Homo sapiens: one gene and its partner. The protein of the gene in region 1 interacts with the protein of each later gene in a biochemical or structural test. Each region holds a gene or a part of one and is shown in the gene's direction. Other genes may lie near its edges.

Region 1 (5,194 bases):
ACGCCTGTAATCCCAGCACTTGGGGAGGCTGAGGCGGGCGGATCACCTGAGGTCGGGAGTTTGAGACCAGCCTGACCAATATGGAGAAACCCTGTCTCTCCTAAAAATACAAAATTAGCCGGGCATGGTGGCGCATGCCTGTAATCCCAGCTACTCGGGAGGCTGAGGCAGGAGAAGCGCTTGAACCCGGGAGGCGGAGGTTGTGGTGAGCCGAGATCGTGCCATTGCACTCCAGCCTGGGCAATAAGAGTGAACTCCGTCTCAAAAAAAAAAAAAAGAATAAAACAAGGGAAAGCTTTCAACAACAGACCTGGCTTTAAAAAAAAAAAATTAAGCCATGTAACATACATACAGTAAAGTATACAAATCTGAATTTGATGAATTTTTATACATGTGTCCCCCCATGTCACACACACATGGCCATACTCACACACTCACATTTGTAACTACCATCCAGGTCAAGATACAATTCATTTTCAACACCGCAGCAGGCCCCCTTGTTCCTCCTTCTGGTCAGAACTTACAGCTTTCCTCACCTCTACCCTCCTGGAGCCTGCTATTTGGACTTCTATCATTATGATTAATTTTGCCTAGGCTTGAATATAAATGGACTCACATAGCATGATTTCTTTTGTGTCAGACTTTATTCACTCATTGATATATTTGTGAGATGCATTCTTGTTGCCTGCGGTAATAGTAGTTCTTTTTCACTGCTTTGTCATTTTCTACTGTATGAATATACCAAGTTAGAAATTTGACTTTTTGTCAGTTAATGACTATTGTGAATTAAAATGCATTGGTCATCTTTTATAAGCCTTTTGCTGGACGTATACACTCATTTTTCTTGGATATATGTTAGGTTGGACCACTAGAAGTTGCCTTTTTGTTGTTTTGGGAGACAGTCTTGTTACCTAGGCTGGAGTGCAAGGGTGCGATCTCGGCTCACCACCACCTCCACCTCCTGGGTTCAAGCGATTCTCCTGCCTCAGCCTCCCGAGTAGCTGGGATTACAGGCATGCGCCAACACGCCTAGCTAATTTTGTATTTTTAATAGAGATGGGGTTTCTCCACGTTGGTCAGGCTGGTCTCGAACTTCTGACCCCAGGTGATCTGCCCGCCTTGGCCTCCCACAGTACTGGGATTACAGGCGTGAGTCAGTGTGCCCAGCCTAGAAGTTACCATTTTGTTGGTCCAAAATAGTTATTAGTGGTTTCATATAATTCATCCTGTACCTAGAAGTAGAATTGCTGGATCAAAGGGTAGTTGTATGTTCAGCTTTAGAAGATAGGTATTTATAAACATTTTTTTGGTGTGCCCTGCCAGCTGTGTGTGAGAGTTCCATTTTCCCCACATTTTCACCAAATACTTGGTATTGTCAGTCTTTTAAATTTAAGCCATTCTGGCTGTACAGAGCTCATTTATGTACTAATGTTTACATTTTACCTCACAGAAAATAGATGCACAAGCTATTGAAGAATTCTACGGGTTGACATCAGATATCTCAAAGAACTCTGAGTCTGGTTACATCCTTTTCTATCAGTCTCGGGACTGAGAGGGAACCGTGATGAAGAGACACTTTCTGCCTCATTTCTTCTCTGGTTATTTTGGAAAGGATCAAGCACTGATTTTTCAAGAAAAGAGAAATGCAGGAAGCTCAGGGGGCAGTAGCACACTTTGCACACGATAAAGCAAAGACGATGGATTGACAAGCCCTTCCGATCATGGTAGTTGATTTATTTGCTCAGGTATCATGCTGTCTGTACAGTTCCATACAACAAGGAGGTGAAATCAGAGATACCAGCTCCTCTTTTAAAACAGCCTTCCAGTCATTGGCACGCATTTTCTCTTTATTAATTGCACCAATAATGCTTTGAATTCCTTGGGGGTGCAGTAGAAAGAATCGGAATCTGTGCCGTATTGATAAGGAGATGATGTTGAACACACTGCATAAATTTGCCTGGTTCAGTATGTATAGAAGCATATTCAGTGGTCTTTTCAAGAGTAAACCAGAAATACTTTTGGGCCCAACACTTGCAGTTGCCTTCCTGATGTAAAAACTAACATGCTAGATAATCCAGTGTCGGGAAGACAAAGATGTTTTGCTTCTCTGAAGAAGCTTATAATAATATACAGTATATGTATATGTAGGGAGCAATTGGTCAAAAGTGGCTTTTTGTTTCCCCAAGGGGAAAGACTGGCTTTGTAATTATAATTTTTTCCTTATTTATTTTACTTAAAACTGGTAGAGTCTAAGTATTATATGAAGTGCCCATGATTCTGTCAGTAAATTTGAACATATTTTTATTAGTTAATGTCAGTTTAAGTTGTCCTTTTGTTTGTTTCTATTTTTAAGGTGAATTTTAATTTCTATCTGAAATCAGTTAAGATACCTTGAGAAAAACTGCAGTGAGAGGAGATAAATATCCTTTTTCAGGAGGAACTGATATCTCTGGCTAAATATTTGTCCTTTTATTATGGTTTCTAAATCAGTTATTTTCTTCAGCTTTAATTTCATAAAATTAAAAAACTATTTTAAAAATTCCTGTAGTTGTTGGAATAATTAAAAATTCTGGTGCAGTGGTGGTATACCAATCTTTAGAATTCTTAAGTATTCTAATGTTTCAAGTTGAGATCATGCTTGGGAAAATCATGTCATAGCATTTATGTTATTTTCAGATGCCATTTTTTACCCTGGAAAGAAGTCATAATGTTCATCATAACCCTAGCAGCCTGGATAGTGAGCTAAACAAACCCTTCAAAGATTAAATTTTAATCAAGTAGACCGGGAATACAAAAGACAAGTCCTTCCTTCCCTTCCCCCCACCTTTACAAATCTTACTGGAAGGGTGTTCAGAAATTAAAATCTGTGTTTGCTAAGACTTCATTCTGTTGGGGGTTTTAAGAAGTAATATATGTAACATAAAATATATGTAAACGATTGCAGTTTTTTTGGACGTTTTTCCATGCATCAGTAAGTTGTCTGACAGTAGCCAAATGTAACTTGCAGAAAATTATTGAAAATTATATTCAGAATAATAGCAATCAGGCCTTGGATGTTCTTTATTAAACTCTTTTCAGGCAGTAAATTTAAAAAAAATTGTCATTTTCTAAAGTCCTTTTGCTAAAACTGTTGACTATGGAAAACAACAAAAAGGAATTTTTTAGTCTGCTGCTATTATTAACATTTATTATCTGTATCTTTTGGCTCAGGAAATGACTTCACCTATTTTTTCCATAAGCAGACCTTTAACAGAGTCACTTAATTGGGCTGCTTAAACAGATGTTCTGGGAGAAAATTATAATATTTAGTATTTGTACAAAATATCAAAAAGTATTTTGACAAGTTTCTTTTTAAGATAGTTCCTAAAGCCTTACCCTGGCTAGAGGTGTTTTGTACAAATTATATATAAGCCAGCCTGATCTACCAACATGCCACAGAGAATCACAATCAACAGTGTGGGGAAAGTCAGGGCAGTGGAAGTGGATGCACTCTTTTTATTTTGAAGGCTTAAACCAAATTGTCTTGGAATTAAAGCTGTATTTCTGCAGCTTTCGGTACAGAGAAAAAGAGGAAAGTGAAGCTGTGTCAGTTTTAACATTAGCTATATCAACATGTTTAAGAAAGATAGATGAAGTCATTTGCATAAAGGTACAGCATTGAAATACTATGTTGTGTTTGTTTTTACATTTTTGCATTAAAAAAAAACATGCCGTAAAAGCCAAGTTAAATTTCATATTAAAGCAAGTTCTAGTGTATGTGTTGAGTTCCTGGTAATCACATACTTGTTCACATCTACACCGTACTTCATAGTATGATTTGTCAGGGGAGGGATTGTGGGGTGACAGTTTTACATTTACTTTTTCTTCTTAATGCAGCTGGATCTAAGTAAAATGTTTTGAAGTTTATCAGAAACTAAATGTACTTTTAAAACGTATAGGGTCAGGGTTGGGGGAAAAATACAGGTATAGTAAGTAAGAAAAGTGACCCATGAAGAAAGCATCGTGAGGTTGTATGTTGGTTGACTGTGATTAAAATGCGGGGCTGGTGTAAGTTGTAAGTGGTGGCTGATTGCCGTGTAACTATGTACATGATTGTTGGGATGGCTGTCCCATATTTTGTATATTGGAATAAAAATTTCTATAAATTATTGTAACTAAAAGTAAATATTCTAAATTAAGTCCCACTTCTTAAGTCACATGGCTTCTGTCTTGGAAATTTTACCTTTAAAAGATTATTTAAGACAGGAACCAGGAGGCTTGGGAACAGGGAAAGAGGGAAATGTTGTATTATGTGGGTCTTGGGGCCTCTAACCATCAGTATAGGGTTTTTTCTTTCCTTGATGGCAGTAGAAAGACCTCATTTTCATAACATAACTACTCTTGATACTTTCTTTAAAAACACTTTTTATTAAAGATTCTATCATGAGGTATTTGGCTGGGAGCTGGGAGGCTAAAGCGCTCATGTCCTGGCTCTTCAGTGAATTTAACTGTGTGACCTTGGGCAAGTCACTTAACCTCTCTGTGCTTCAGTCTCCCTGTCTTGTAAAATGGGAGTAATACCTACCTCACAGGGTTGTTGTGGGGATTAATTAGAGATAATGTCTGTAAAGCATTTAAGGTTCTTGAAGAAGGCACTATATAAATACAAAATAATATCTATTAAAGTTGGTTTATTTGTGCCTGTGGGTTTCAAGTGTGTTTTTTCCTTTTTGCCTAAAATGTATTTACAGATTAGAAGTAGACACTTTGGAAACTGTGTTACTGCTTTTGCCCAAGCTCCTACTTCTGTATCCAAAGAGATTTTCCCTAGAACAGAATTGCATGTGTGTAAAACAACATTCTACATGTGCCTGCATTTATTTAGCACATAGTAGCTTGTGTCACCTTTCTGTGATAGCATGTCTGAAAAGTTCAAAGTTTAAATTTGAACATTGAGAGTCATAGAATCTTAGAGGGTAAAATAGGTAAAATACCTTAAAGATCACTGTTTCTCCTGCTCCTCCTCCTTTCCTGTGTAGTAATTGCTCCTGTAAAATCTGTTTTCACAAGTGGTCAGTCAACCTGCACTTGAGTGCTGGAAGCCTGTTCCATTATTGAGTAACTTGAGTTGTTATTTATGTTGCCATTATTTTCAGCCCATCCTTCATTCTCCCAGTGTGCTTCTGATCTCAAGGCTGATCTTTGTATTAGATGG
Region 2 (7,038 bases), on another chromosome or scaffold:
AAGTTGTTTATATAAATGAATCCAGCCTGAAGAGTTGAATTAGAATTGTCAGTAAAAAAAATCTTGCCTTAATTATTTCAGGACTGGAAAGGAAGGCCAACCCAGAGAGTACTACACATTGGATTCCATTTTATTTCTACTTAATAACGTGCACCTTTCTCATCCTGTTTATGTCCGACGTGCAGCTGTAAGTAGAATTCATTTTACTTATCTATCTATTTATCAGTTTTATTTTTATTTATTTAAGAGACAGGGTCTGGCCTTGTTGCCCGGGCTAGGGTGCAGTGGTGTGATCATAGCTCATTGCAGCCTCGAACTCCTAGGCTCAAGTGATCTTCCCACCTCTGCCTTCAAGTAGCCAGGACTGCAGGCCTGTGCCACCGTATCTGGCTAATTTTTTTTGTTGTTGTTAAAGATGAGGGGGTCTTGCTGTGTTGCCTAGGCTGGTCTTGAACTCCTACCCTCAGTGGATCCTCCTGCCTCGGCCTCCCGAAGTGCTGGGATTACTGGCATGAATCACTGTGCCTGGCCAATAATTCATTTTAAAACTTTTTTTTTTTTTTTGAGATAGGATCTGGCTCTGTTGCCTAAGCTGGAGTGCAGTGGTGTGATCTCGGCTTACTGTACCCTCTACTTCTCGGGCTCAAGCCAGCCTCCCACCTCAGTCTCCTGAGAAACTGGGACTATAGGCATGGCCCACCATGCCGGGCTAATTTTTGTATTAACACATTTTTTTTTTTTTTGGCTTCGTGGTAGTAGGTATCATTTGGAATGGATAGCTTCCCTCATGGGTTTCAAATCAAAAGAATGAAAGGTTTGTATGAGTGTCTCCAGGAGAGTCAAAATTAGGTGACTGTGTGACTTACACAGACTTTTTAATCTGTGATATTTTTTCATGTAAAGTGTGGGTAATGTTTATAACAAAGGAAGTTTTAAAGGGATTTATAGAGCCAGGCTTCTTAGTGCACGCTGGTAATCCCAGCTACTTGGGACTCTAAGGCGGTAGGGTTGCTTGAGCCTAGGAGATCAAGACCAGCCTGGGCAACATAGTGAGATGCCATCTCAAGAAAAAGAAAACCCGAAACGCTAAAAGTATTTATAGAGATGTTTAGAAAAACTTGTAAGCCTGTGGAAGGACCCTGTTACTTCAGAACTCTAGTTTAATCTCAAGAAAACTTTTTTTGGTTGTAAGGATTAAGATTAGCAGACATTTAAAAAAATTGTTTCTTAATCAGTTTTGTGCAGCTGTTTTAGTACTCTGGAGAAGTTCATTTGTTTTTAGTTTTGCTTGCTTTCTCAGTGTTTGAAAATTTATTACTCAGAGGAAATATTTGGAAACAACTTGAAAAGAACTAATTTCATAAACTATGATGATGAGATTCTTCATCTGTAGGGAAGTATCATTAAGACCTAAATTATAGCAGTATATTATAATTGATAAGTAAATAAGATTCAGAGTTATTTGGATAGGATAGCTGTATGACATGGAAAAGTACTATAATGCCCACATAAAATGGCCTAAAAGATATTTAATTTTTTTAAATGAGCTTTTCCCTCAGATTATTTTTGGTAGAGTTGAACATAAAATTTTTTGAAGATATAATTGAAATAATTAAATGTCTGCTTTTAATATTTGTTGCTTTTGCTTACAAGTATACACTTAAAATTAAGTATGAAATGTATTTATAAATAACTACTTTTTCCCATTTCTTATAGTTCTTAAAACAATCTTCTTAAACTTTTCTTATAGTTCTTAAAACAATTTTTTAAAATATCACTGTGTCTGTCATCACTGGAGCTGCTTTTTGAGTTACCTAACACCGTTGCTGGATCACATTAAGCTGTGTGAAACTTAACTTCTATAACTCTAACCTCCCTCCCAACTAGAAATAGTTAAGGTTTCTGGCTTATGTATCTTTCAAACAATAACTTGTTGTCTAAAGCAACTAAAAGCCAGGTGTGGTGGTGCATGCCTGTAGTCCCAGCACTTTGGGAGGCTGAGCTCAAGTGGGAGGATCACTTGAGCTCAGGAGTTCAAGACCAACCTGGGCAACATAGGGAAACTTTGTTAAAACAAAAAATAAAAAAAATTAGTCAGGCGTGGTAGTGTGCACCTATACTCCCAGCTGGCTACTCAAGGGGCTGAGGTGGGAGGATCACTTGGGCCCAGGAGGTTGAGGCTGCAGTAAGCCATGATCACACCAATGCATCTATCCTGGGTGATAGAGCAAAGACTCTGTCTCAGGGAAAAAAAAAAAATGTGTGTGTGTGTGTGTGTGTGTGTGTGATTATAGCAATTGAGAAAGTATCCCGTCACTTAGTGGGCTTTGTATTAAACCATAAGGCTTCTGCTTTCCTGAGTAAGAAATATATATTTATGTTACATATTTAAAAAAATAAAATTAGAGTGGGACTACTTGGGAAAATAAGGGGAAAAAAATAGCACCAGCTCCGTCTTTAAGGTTATTTTAACTCAGATCTTTAAAAACTAAATTAGGTAGTTCTTACAGTGTTTTGTTGGATATATTCATTTTAGTGTAACAAAGATTCAGATAGTTGGCTTAGATTTATAGATTCTGTTTTTGGGAAATGGTTGTGCATATAACTGATAGCTGTAATTGTTACTGTGGACCTTGGGACCCTTGGTTGCATAAGATTTAACTCATTTTTCATAAGTATTTGCCAGATTGAAAGAGTAGGATTCTAAAATTCCAAAATTCTATGAATTCGAGATTGTTGTCTCCTAATTACTTTGTGTTATTTGCTCTTTCCTGTGCGCAGACCACTCATTTTTTTTTTTTTTTTTTTTGAGTGCAGTGGCGTGATCTCGGCTCACTGCAACCTCCGCCTCCTGGGTTCAAGGGATTCTCCTGCCTCAGCCTCCCAAGTAGCTAGAATTACAGGCACACGCCACCATGCCTGGCTAATTTTTGTATTTTTAGTAGAGACGGGGGTTCACCACGTTAGCCAGGTTGGTCTTGATTTCCTGACCTCGCGATCCGCCCGCCTCGACCTCCCAAAGTGTTGGGATTACAGGCGTGAGCCACTGCGTCCGGCTGAGCAGACCACTCTGAAAACAGATTCCTGATCCTTAGTTCCTATTTTAGTGTGAGTAGATGTAATCTTTTTCAGTGGATTGTGATGTGTACATAACTCAGTAGTGACCAAATGATGATGTAAGTTATTAGACTTAGAAACAGTAACTTAAAATTAACTCAAATCTTTTAACTGTTTATGATATTCCATATAGACTGGTTTATTTTTATTTTTTATTTTTTTTTGAGACAGAGTCTTGCTCTGTCACCCAGGCTGGAGTGCAGTGGCAGGATCTTGGCTTGCCACAGCCTTACCCTCCCGGGCTCAAGTTGTCTTCCTCCTTCAGCCTCCTGAGTAGCTGGGAGTATAGCTGGGACTGCAGGCGCTTGCCACCATGCCTGGCTAACTTTTATATTTTTGTAGAGTTGGAGTTTTTCCATGTTGCTCAGGCTGGTCTCGAACTCCTGGGCTCCAGCAATCCACCCACTTTGGCCTCCCAGAGTGTTAGGATTACAGGCATGAACCACCATGCCTGGCCTAGGCTGGTTTAAAAGAATACAAGCACAAAAAAACTCTGCACTCAAATTTTTAAACTCATAAGGAGAAACTAAAATTTAGCTTGACCTTTTTAAAATAAAAGGTTAATTTTTAAGTGATTAAATACAGTTTATCTAAATCATTGAGGAGTCAGTGCAGAATGTTTGGTGCAGTAAATTATAATAAGTATTCAATATAAGGTCATTGGCCAAAGATACTAAAGGTTCTTGTTGTTACTTCATTGTTACACATATAAAGTGACAAAGGATTTAAACTGAAATCTGTTAGCTACCAATTTTTCTTGCACTGTTTGTTTGTGTTTCAGACTGGGTCTCGCCTCAGTCTCCTGAGTAGCTGGGATTATAGGCTTCTGCCATCACGCCCGGCTAATTTTTTTTTTTTTTTTTTTTTTGAGACAGTGTCTCACTCTGTCACCCAGGCTGGAGTACAGTGGCGTGATCTCGGCTTACTGCAACCTCTGCCGCCCAGGTTCAAGCGATTCTCTTGCCTCAGCCTCCCGAGTAGCAGGGACTGCAGGTGCCTGTCACCGCGCCTAGCTAATTTTTGTAGTTTTAGTAGAGATGGGGTTTTACCATCTTGCTCAGGCTGGTCTTGAACTCCCGACCTCATGATCCACCCGTCTCGACCTCCCAAAGTGCTGGGATTACAGGTGTGAGCCACTGCGCCCTGCCTAATTTTTGTGTTTTTAGTAGAGATGGAGTTTGACCATGTTGGCCAGGCTGGTCTTGAACTCATGACCTCAAGGGATGCGCCCGCCTTGGCCTCCCGCAGTGCTGGGATTACAGGTGTGGGCCACTGTGCCTGGTCATTGCTTTATTTCTAATGATTATTTTCTGTATATCTTCCTGGAATTTCAAAAAGAAATTTATTTATTTATTTATTTATTTATTTATTTATTTAGAGACGGAATCTCTCTATGTTGCCCAGGCCGGAGTGCAGTGGTGCAGTCTCGGCTCACTGAAACGCCTGTCTCCGCCTCCTGGGTTCCAGTGATTCTCCTGCCTCAGCTTCCTGAGCAGCTGGGATTACAAGCATGCTTCACCACACCCAGCTAATTTTTGTCTTTTTAGTAGAGACGGGGTGTTGCCATGTTGGCCAGGCTGGTCTTTAACTCCTGACCTCAGGTGATCCACCCACCTCAGCCTCCCAAAGTGCTGGGATTCTAGGTGTGAGCCACCGCGCCCAGCCAAGAAAATTATTAAAAGTAACATGTTTAATACATTTTCAGGATTTTTATTAGGTTCTTTTAGCCTAGTCATTTTGTTCAAATGTGATTTAAAATATATTGTATCAAGATATATTGGAATAAAATTCAGACATTACATGTTAATATCAAGTTGTAAGAAAATTATTAAAAGTAACTAACATGTTTAATAAATTTTCAGGATTTTTATTAGGTTCTTTTAGCCTAGTCATTTTTTACAAATGTGATTTAAAATACGTTTTTTCAAGATATGTTGGAATAAAATTCAGACATTACATGTTAATATTTATTAAGTTGTGTATCATTGTTATTCATTTCATATCTCATTTAAAATTTTGGTTTTAGACTGAAAATATTCCTGTGGTTAGAAGACCTGATCGAAAAGATCTACTTGGATATCTCAATGGTGAAGCGTGTGAGTACTTTTTAAATTGTTCCCAGTCTTAAACAGACATTGTTTCTTTTTTCCCCTATGAAATAATGATTAGAGGGAAGAGAATTTGTATTTCCACCAAAAAATTAACCTACCTTCATTTTTGTCCATGTGCTCACCTTTTTCTTATACAGTGGATGCACTGTCTTTGCCCTTATGGCCAGTCACCCCTTCCTTGTGTGTGGATTCCATCTCCTTTCACAGTCTCAAAGACTTTGTCTTCGTAAATTGTTGTTTCTCTGACATCATCAGTTTTCTACTTTCTTCTGGATCATTCCCTTTTAGAATACCTACAGTAAGATTTCATGTTTAAAAAATGTTTTTGATCCCACATTCCTACTGTCTACTGCTTCATTTATCTCCTCCCTGATACTGTAAAATATTCTGCAAGAGTTCGTGTGGTATCATTGCTTCTTTTTTACCTTTGTTTCTTTCTTGAAGCCACTCTAGTCTGGCCTTCATCCTTACCATCCCACTAAAATCACTCCTTGTAAGGTCAAAACTGATTTAAGGATTGCTACATCCTTTGGTCTCTTGTACCATACTTGACCTCTCAACAGCATTTGATACTGTTGACCACTCATTTTTGAAAGCCTTTCTTCATTTGGCATTTGGAACACCAGCCTCTTGGTTCTCTTTCTACTCGTTGTTCACCTCTCAGTTTATTTTGGTTACTTCTGTACCTGACCTCTAATTCTTGAAGTTTCCAAGACTTGATCTTTTTTTTTATCTTTTCTTTTAACCTGTATTCTCTAGGTGATCTCTTTCAGTTTTATGGCTCAGATATCATATATATGCTGATGAAATTTCAAGTGTTTTTTTCAGCATTGATTTCTTTCAGGGCACCAGATTTATAAATTTACTGTCAACATGTTTCCTTGAATGTTGAATAGGCATCTGAAATTTAACACTGAAAATGGAATGCCTGATTCCCTCTTTCCCTTCTGCCCTCACACAGAACAAAAACAAGTCTGTTGTTTTCTCAGTGTTCCCACTTTAGTAAGGGGTAGTGAGACGCTCTTCCTGCAGTTGCTTAGGCCAGAACTTTGGTGACATCTTTGTCACATCTCACATCCATTCTATCAACAAGTTGTTTTTTTCTCTTTTTAAAAGTATGACAACTTCTTACCATTCTACCTGCCCTATTTCATCCTTGCTTTTTAGATTATTGTATAGCTTCCTCACAGGTCCCCACTCTTTATTTCCTATAGTGTAGTCTTAGCAATAGAGTGTCCTGCTTTTGAAAAAGTATATAAACTTGATTGTGTCACTCACCTGTGGCTTCCCATCACTCTTAGAATAAAACTCATACTTGTTACCCTGGCAGTCATCTTGCCTCTGCCTAAATCTCTGTGACTCCATCTTCTACCATTCTTCCTTTGCTCATAACAGTCAGTCTTTTTGGTCTTTTAGCTATGCTAATCTTAGCACCTTTGCACTTTCTCTTTCTATCTTGAGTTGTCTTTCTCTACATTATCACATGGCTCACTTGCTTACTATTTCATTTAGATCTGTGCTCAAGTGTTTTTCCAAATGTTGTTCCATCAGAGAAGACTTCTCTGACCACTCTTATCGAAAATATAGTATTCCTTTCCTCCTTCTGTGGTTTTTATATAGTGCCATCCTGATTTATTTTTCACCAGATCTCATACATTGACCTGAAATTATATATCTGTTTATGTACATAGTGTCTGTCTTTCCCATTAGAAGGTAAATCCTAAGGGGACAGACAGTTGTTTGTCTTGTTAAATACCCAGCATTTACAATAGTGGTGCATGGTAGGTTCTTAACTGAATAAATGAGTAAT

The links.
Region 2: the proteins of USP12 (region 1) and CDC73 form a complex in vitro, tested with the Homo sapiens proteins (one study listed by BioGRID).

Annotation. Positions count from the first base shown.
Region 1 is NC_000013.11:27,065,641-27,070,834, reverse strand, and holds the end of USP12 (ubiquitin carboxyl-terminal hydrolase 12), read left to right. Parts: intron 1-1,450; coding exon 1,451-1,552; 3' UTR 1,553-4,679; downstream 4,680-5,194. UniProt on the Homo sapiens protein: Deubiquitinating enzyme that plays various roles in the regulation of the immune response and inflammation.
Region 2 is NC_000001.11:193,125,031-193,132,068, forward strand, and holds part of CDC73 (parafibromin), read left to right. Parts: intron 1-81; coding exon 82-187; intron 188-5,143; coding exon 5,144-5,213; intron 5,214-7,038.